Linked DNA regions of Homo sapiens. The protein of the gene in region 1 purifies or fractionates together with the protein of each later gene. This does not show direct contact. Each region holds a gene or a part of one and is shown in the gene's direction. Other genes may lie near its edges. The genes, in order: CYP4B1 and PKLR.

What was found.
Region 2: the proteins of CYP4B1 (region 1) and PKLR purify together in Homo sapiens (affinity purification with mass spectrometry; one large-scale study listed by BioGRID and IntAct). This does not show direct contact.

Annotation. Positions count from the first base shown.
Region 1 is NC_000001.11:46,812,366-46,816,172, forward strand, and holds part of CYP4B1 (cytochrome P450 4B1), read left to right. Parts: intron 1-130; coding exon 131-258; intron 259-1,116; coding exon 1,117-1,241; intron 1,242-1,543; coding exon 1,544-1,698; intron 1,699-1,843; coding exon 1,844-1,950; intron 1,951-2,708; coding exon 2,709-2,899; intron 2,900-3,807. UniProt on the Homo sapiens protein: Cytochromes P450 are a group of heme-thiolate monooxygenases. In liver microsomes, this enzyme is involved in an NADPH-dependent electron transport pathway.
Region 2 is NC_000001.11:155,298,351-155,302,631, reverse strand, and holds the start of PKLR (pyruvate kinase PKLR), read left to right. Parts: upstream 1-1,193; 5' UTR 1,194-1,236; coding exon 1,237-1,336; intron 1,337-1,679; exon of another isoform or gene 1,680-1,744; coding exon of another isoform or gene 1,745-1,751; intron 1,752-2,351; coding exon 2,352-2,534; intron 2,535-4,281. UniProt on the Homo sapiens protein: Pyruvate kinase that catalyzes the conversion of phosphoenolpyruvate to pyruvate with the synthesis of ATP, and which plays a key role in glycolysis.

The DNA of each region.
Region 1 (3,807 bases):
AATACTGGGTCGCTTAGTGGCCCACCCTTGGAGGGTTCCAGGCTCAGGGATGGAGTCGTGTAGGATGTGCTTAGCCCCAGGCTGCCAGGGCCTGGACTGACCAGCCCTCTCTCTCCCATCCCTTCCCCAGGGAGAGGCCTGCTGGTTCTTGAGGGGCCCAAGTGGTTGCAGCACCGCAAGCTGCTCACACCTGGCTTTCATTATGATGTGCTGAAGCCCTATGTGGCCGTGTTCACTGAGTCTACACGTATCATGCTGGTGAGCTCCCTGTGCCAGAGTACTGGAGGCTGTTGCCTGCTGGGCTAGCCCCTCTCCACCCTGATTTTGTCCTGGGGAGAGTAGGTGGTGCTCTGCAGTAAGGAGAATAGCTGAGCCCCAAGGCCTGTTCTGCCTGCAACAGCAGTGCCAAAGCCCTGCTCTACTGACATGTGCCGCAGGCTGCCACTGAGTCGGTGCTGAATCTCTAAGTGTCCTGGCAGCCCGATCCTTGTCTCCACCAGGAGACCCAGCCCTCTTTCCTCCCAGGCCAAAGGGTCTCTGTGAGAACTTAATAAGGCTCCTAGCATAGCAGGTTTGAGGACTGCCTATATTTGAGAGTATGGGGAAAGGCTTTCACATCTAAAACGTGTCTCCTCATTTTCTGTCTACCACAGCTGCCCAGAATTATGTCAATACAACTCATCTCTAAGAGGGATGTCAGAGGTCAGGGTTAGAGTCTTAGGGCTGGGTAATCCCTAAGTTATCCAGGCTAGTCTTTCCCCTTGTAGGAAACTCCCCTCCAGGATTACTTACATATACACCATGCGGGGGAGCTCACCACCTCTCAGCCATCCTACTCCCTTATAGGCTGCCCTGACTGGGAGAAAACGTCTGTGTGCTGTGCAAGATCTGCCTCCTGGTCCTGCCCTCTGAGCCTGAAGCCCAGAGGCTTCCAAACTTCTACCCACCCTATCCTGATATTCCAGCAGGATGGAGGGCAGGACAGGGACTGGGAGTGTGTGAAGGGGGCTTGGTGGTGGAGGATAGGCTACGGGTCCTGGAGGGCAGCTTGGGGCATCCAGCCCAACTAACCCCTGCATCGCCTCCTACACATTGCCTCCTATCCCTGGACTCCAGGACAAGTGGGAAGAGAAAGCTCGGGAGGGTAAGTCCTTTGACATCTTCTGCGATGTGGGTCACATGGCGCTGAACACACTCATGAAGTGCACCTTTGGAAGAGGAGACACCGGCCTGGGCCACAGGTCAGGAGCCACCTCGGGGCTGACCGCACTGTCTCCAAAGCCATCTTAGAGGGGAGAGTTGGCAGGGGTCCTGGGCTCTGATCTGAGAAGAGATAGGGTCCTGCCCCAGGGAGCCTTAGCTTGCGGGGAGACAGGACCTGCTCATGGTGGGGTAAACACCTGGCTTTAGCAAGGAGGCTTAAGGGCAGGGAGAAGAAGAGCAGGATGCTCTGTGGTTGGGGCTAGATTCCTGGAATGGAGTTTCTCTGGCTCTGCTCCTGGGCCAGTGTCTAAGCCAATCCCTCCTCCTACCCTCTGCTTAGCAGGGACAGCAGCTACTACCTTGCAGTCAGCGATCTCACTCTGTTGATGCAGCAGCGCCTTGTGTCCTTCCAGTACCATAATGACTTCATCTACTGGCTCACCCCACATGGCCGCCGCTTCCTGCGGGCCTGCCAGGTGGCCCATGACCATACAGGTGGGCCTTTCCCACAAGGCTCACCTCTAGGAAGCCTGGGTTCCTCCTCCTGGCCCCTCTATGCCCCCTCCCATTATAGGACCCCAGTTCCCCTTTGGACAAAAGATGGCTTCCCAGGCAGTGACACTCTGTGCTTTTGGTTCAGACCAGGTCATCAGGGAGCGGAAGGCAGCCCTGCAGGATGAGAAGGTGCGGAAGAAGATCCAGAACCGGAGGCACCTGGACTTCCTGGACATTCTCCTGGGTGCCCGGGTGAGTACATTGTTGCCCACCCCTACCTGAGGACTGGTCCCAGAGAGGTCTTCAACCATCCTCCCAGGACAGCAGAAGGAGCTCTTAAGCATTTCCCCCTTTCCTCAGCAAATATAACCTGTTCCTCGTCCCATGAAACATATTAGCAGGGGTTCAGAGGTGGGCAGGTGTAGGGTGTGTGTGCCTGAGCTGTGGAGTTGGGAGCCTAGGTCACGTGGTAGTGGCTGGACGACATTTCTAGACTTCTAAGATCCCCCAAAATGTTGGCCTTGTAGAATCCTAGAATCTTAGACTTCATTCATTCATTCATTCATTCAGTAAGTTCTTTATTCATCAATTCTAGAAACTCACTGAGTTCTGACTCTGGGTCATTTCCGTGCTAGGATGCAGAGATGGGAAAGACCTGGCCCTTCCTTCCAGATGCTTACAGTCCAGCAGGGGAGACAGTAGGTAGATGTTGACCAAAATGTCTTCCTCTGGCAGGTGGTATTCTATGTGCCCAGTGAGCAGAACAGTCAGGGCTGGACAAGGTCACAAGTCATTTGGCCAGAGCATTTAGGGAGGGCTTTGTGGAGGAGGAGGCATCCAGGCTGAGCTTTGAAGGAATATAGGAATCTGGGGGAAGGTCCTAATCCACCCTCTGAAAAGGAGCTTTCACTCCCTCCCAGAGACCTTCATTTGACAACCACCATTATGAGTTCTTCTTGTTACCCACCTCCAATACCTCAAGCTGTCCTATTATGCCTTCCCTAACCCAGGATGAAGATGACATCAAACTGTCAGATGCAGACCTCCGGGCTGAAGTGGACACATTCATGTTTGAAGGCCATGACACCACCACCAGTGGTATCTCCTGGTTTCTCTACTGCATGGCCCTGTACCCTGAGCACCAGCATCGTTGTAGAGAGGAGGTCCGCGAGATCCTAGGGGACCAGGACTTCTTCCAGTGGTGAGTCTGAGGGTGGGCCCGGTTTATCCTGCTCAGCCCTTGGGAAGGGCGATGCCCATCCTGTCCTGAACCATCCTGGAAATCAGGTGAGGTGGCGGCTGCTATCCTGTTACCCCCAGTGTCATACCTTTTGTGGTGGTGGGGGGTGGGGAGAGTGGTTGGCTGGGCACAGATGCACCCCTGAGCCCATTCTCCCAAAATGGAGCCTTTCAGAAGTGTTATGTAGAGAAAGTTGTCAACAAGAGGCTGATATTTTGTGTGCTAACTTCTTCTGACGGTAGAACCTGATTACCCTTCTGGGTCCCTGGATAGAGTAGGGAGAGCTGGGAGAGAAAGAGGTGGAAATGTGGGGGTGAACAGAGCTGAGACAGCTGGGAGAGCCAGTTCCTTGCTACTTGCCTTTGGATGGCAATACTCAGCTTCCAGATGCCATATCTCTCCTGCTGGTGAAGGAGAAAAGACTTCCCCAAACTTCATCACTTAAAAACTTTCCATTGTTTTCCCCTGTTTCTTGGCTCAAGACTGAACTCCTAAACACTTAAGGATTGACCCTGACCTCTCTGCAGTGTGATCTCTGGGAGTCTCTCAAGAGGCTCCTTCACCCTTGCTGGCTGCCTGTTCCCCTCAGGCCTTTGCTTGTGGTCAGACAACCTGCCTTTCTCTCTGGGCTCCTGAGCAGCCTCCAAGAGGGGGCTAGGCACACAGCAGGGGTACAGAAAATGCTGAGCCAGAGGGGGAACTTTAGATCCACTTGAAAGGGACTGACCTATAACTCCAGGGTCTAGGACCTGGAGTATGAAGCCTCCATTACCATTTCTGTTGGTCATATGTGAGAATCCCCCCCCCACGGGGTATCCAGACACATGCCAGGTGCTATCAGGGGTGCAGAACGGAAGAGAAAGAGAAGC
Region 2 (4,281 bases), about 110 Mb from region 1:
GAGAGGCCGAGGCTGGTGGATACTTGAGGCCAGGAGTTGGAGACCAGCCTGGACAACATGGTGAAACCCCATCTTTACTAAAAATACAAAAATTAGGCCAGGCACAGTGGCTCACACCTGTAATCCCAGCACTTTGGGAAGCTGTGGCGGGCAGATCACCTGAGGTCAGGAGTTCGAGACCAGCCTGACCAACATGGTGAAACCCCGTCTCTACTAAAAATACAAAAATTAGCCAGGCGTGGTGGTGCATGCCTGTAATCCCAGCTACTCAGGAGGCTGAGACAGGATAATCGCTTGAACCCAGGAGGCAGAAGTTGCAGTGAGCCAAGATCACGCCACTGCACTCCAACCTGGGCAACAGAGTCAGACTCAGTCTCAAAAAAAAAAAAAAAAAGAAAAGAAAAGAAAAAAGAAAAACAAAATTAGCTGGGTGTGGTGGTGCACGTCTGTAATCCCAGCTACTCGGTAGGCTGAGGCAGGAGGATCGCAGAGGTTGCAATGAACTGAGATTGCGCCACTGCACTCCAGCCTGGGCGACAGAGTGAGACTCTGTGAAAAAAAAAAGAAAAAAAAGAAAAAAGAAAAAGAAAAAAGGAAGGAAGGGAGGGAGGAAAGAAAATTTCCCTGGGGGTAGGAGTCTATAAGTTTAGCAAAATAGTCGATCTTTCAGTGTTTCCAGCAACAACCTAATCAAGTTTATCAGTGTCTGAGAATGTTCAAGGTACCATCTTGGGTTCAAACATGTAGGCGAAAACATGCAGCTGGCCAGGTTACAGAGTGGTGAAGGCACTCTGCATTTCTTGGTTGAGACAGAGAAAAAAAGTGGTCAGAACTGGGTAACCCTCCCCCCACCATATTATCACAGTGATCCCTTTTGTCTTTCTTCAGGCTCCAGCCCCACCCTACAGCCCCTGCTCCCTGGATTCACTAGAGCTAACTTCAGTAAAGTACAAAGAAAATGGGGCCATATGACTGGCCAAAAAAAAAATATCTATTCACGTGGATGACCAGATAGTATGAATGGATTGAAAATTTATCAGGAAAAAAGGATGAGAGGAAATGCCAGGAGATGAGGGCAGAGAGCAGGCCGTTCTGGGGGAGGGATTCTGTGGGGACAGGGTGGCCTACTGGGTGTGCCCCTTTTCTCTTCTCTGTCTCCCTTAGATAAGACCAGCAGTTTTGTCATCCTCTCCCTCTCATTCCATGGTCCCGCAGCCCCAGGCCCACACTGAAAGCATGTCGATCCAGGAGAACATATCATCCCTGCAGCTTCGGTCATGGGTCTCTAAGTCCCAAAGAGACTTAGCAAAGTCCATCCTGATTGGGGCTCCAGGAGGTAAGAAGGGGAGACAGAAGCCATGGAACATAGGAGGAAAATGAGGGTGAAAACTAGGAGCCAGGGTGGAGGGCATAAATGATCCACATCAGCCACTGGCTAGGTGGGTTTTGGAGAGGAACGTACGTTCTTCAGAGCCTCCCGTGTGTTAAATTATGGACCCTGGCCTGGGTCTTTTCCAGGCCCTATAGGCAGGCCAGAGCCACAGCATGTAAGCCACGGGGCACTCCCGTGGTTCCTGGACTCTGGCCCCTGGCATACAGGGCTTCCAATGGAACAGGAGACAGTGGTGACACTTTAACCAGTCTGCAGAACTGATCCCCAGCCCAGCTGGGCCTCATGCCTCTGACAACCCAACAGTGTGGAGCAGACCCACAGAGAGGGAGACCCAGAGAGGTGTGCAGTGGCATGGAAGGTGCGGCTGGAATCGGGGGCTCCTCTGAACTGGGATGGGTCAAGCTACAGGGACCTCTGTGTCTGTAGCAGCTTTGAGAAGCCTGGGGAGACTCAGAGGATGGGGTGGGGAAGCCAGCCAGTAGCCAGGGGTTGGAAGGGAGAAAACAGAGACCTTTGGAGCAGGAACTGGGTGATTCTGGGTCTGCATAGGGTGAGGCTGCTGGGGACTAGACATCAAGGGGTGGTGGGGTTGAGGGTCATCAGTAGCTGCAGGTCGGGGGGTCCTGGGTTGTGCGGGGTCAGTATAACTGAGTGGTCAAGAACTTGGGCTAGAGTTAGTCAGACCTAGATTTGAATCCTAGCTGATCCATACTTAGAAGCTGTATAATATTGGACCATTTATTTCCTGTTTCTCAGCCTCTGTTTCTTTATCCATAAAATTGGATAATTATAGAACATTTAACAGTACCTGCTTTATAGGATCCTTGTGACATAATAAAATAATATATGCATGATGCCCAGCTCATAAGAAGGGAAGGAACAGAGGGTATGCTGAGAGACGAAGGCATGGGGAGGAAGGGCAGGTGACATGCAGTCCCTGAGCCCCCTTCTACCACAGGGCCAGCGGGGTATCTGCGGCGGGCCAGTGTGGCCCAACTGACCCAGGAGCTGGGCACTGCCTTCTTCCAGCAGCAGCAGCTGCCAGCTGCTATGGCAGACACCTTCCTGGAACACCTCTGCCTACTGGACATTGACTCCGAGCCCGTGGCTGCTCGCAGTACCAGCATCATTGCCACCATCGGTAAGCACTCCCATCCCCCTGCAGCCACACAGGGCCTATTGGTATTTCTTGAGGTGCTTCTTCATCTTTTGTCTCCTTTGAGACTTCTCCATGTTTGACACAGTCATTCATTTAACAAAAATTTGTTGAGCATATAGTAGACAAGATTTTGGGCCCTGGGAGTAGATCAGTGAAAAAAACAGACAAAAATCCCTACCCTTGGGGAGCTGACAGTCTAGCTGAGTATGACAATAAATAGTAAGCACAATAAATTATTTAAAATAAGTAAATTATTTATTCCGTTAGAAAGTGAGGCCGGGCATGGTGGCTCATGCCTGTAATCGCAGCATGTTGGGAGGCCCAGGTGGGCAGATCACTTGAGGTCAGGAGTTCGAGACTAGCCTGACCAACATGGAGAAACCCCGTCTCTACTAAAAATACAAAATTAGCCGGGCATGGTGGTGCGTGCCTGCAATCCCAGCTACTCAGGAGGCTGAGGCAGGAGAATCGCTTGAACCCAGGAGGCGGAGACTGTGGTGAGCCGAGATCACACCATTGCATTCCAGCCTGGGCAACAGGAGAAAAACTCCATCTCACAAAAAAAAAAAAAAAAAAAAAAAAAAAAAAGTGGGCTGGGCTCAGTGGCTCATGCCTGTAATCCCAGCACTTTAGGAGGCCAAGGTTGGCAGATCGCTTGAGCCCAGGAGTTTGAGACCAGTCTGGGTAAATGGCAAAACCCATCTCTACAAAAAATACAAAACTTAGTTGAGTGTGGTGGTGCATGCCTGTAGTCCCAGCTACTCAGGAGGCTGAGGTGGGAGGATCACTTAAGCCCAGGAGGTCACGGCTGCAGTGAGTCATGATCGAGCCACTGTACTCCAGCCTAGGTGACAGACGAGACCCTAGAGAGAAAGAGAGAAAGAAAGAAAGAAGGAAAGAAAGAAAGAAAGAGAGAGAGAAAGAAGGAAGGAAGGAAGGAGGGAGGGAGGGAGGGAAGGAAGGAAGGAAAGAAAGCAAGCAGGCAAGAAAGAAAGAAAGAAAAGAAAGAAGGAAGGAAGGAAGGAAGGAAAGAAAGAAAGAAAGAGAAAGAAAGAAAGAAAGAAAGAAAGAAAGAAAGAAAGAAAGAAAGAAAGAAAGAAAGAAAGAAAGAAAGAAAGAAAGAAAGGAGTGAAAGTTGGCCGGGCATGGTGGCTCTTGCCTATAATCCCAGCACTTTGGGAGGCTGAGGCAGGTGGATCACCTGAGGTCAGGGGTCCGAGACCAGCCTGGCTAATGTGGTGAAACTCTGTTTCTACTAAAAATACAAAAAATTAGCCAGGCATGGTGGCATGTGCCTATAATCCCAGCTACTCGGGAGGCTGAGGCAGGGGAATCGCTTGAACCCGGGAGACAGAGATTGCAGTGAGCCAAGATCACGCCATTGCACTCCAGTTTGGGCAACAAGAGCGAAACTCTGTTTGTTTGTTTGTTTGTTTTTAAAAAAAGAAAAAAAAGCTGGGCGCGGTGGCTCACGCCTGTAATCCCAGCACTTTGGGAGGCCGAGGCGGGCGGATCACCTGAGGTCAGGAGTTCGAGACCAGCCTCAACATGGAGAAACCCCGTCTCTACTAAAAATACAAAAAATTATCCGGGCATGGTGGTGCATGCCTGTAATCCCAGCTACTCAGGAGGCTAAGGCAGGAGAATTGCTTGAACCTGGGAGGCGGAGGTTGCGGTGAGCCAAGATCGTGCCATTGCACCCCAGCCTGGGCAACAAGAGCGAAACTCC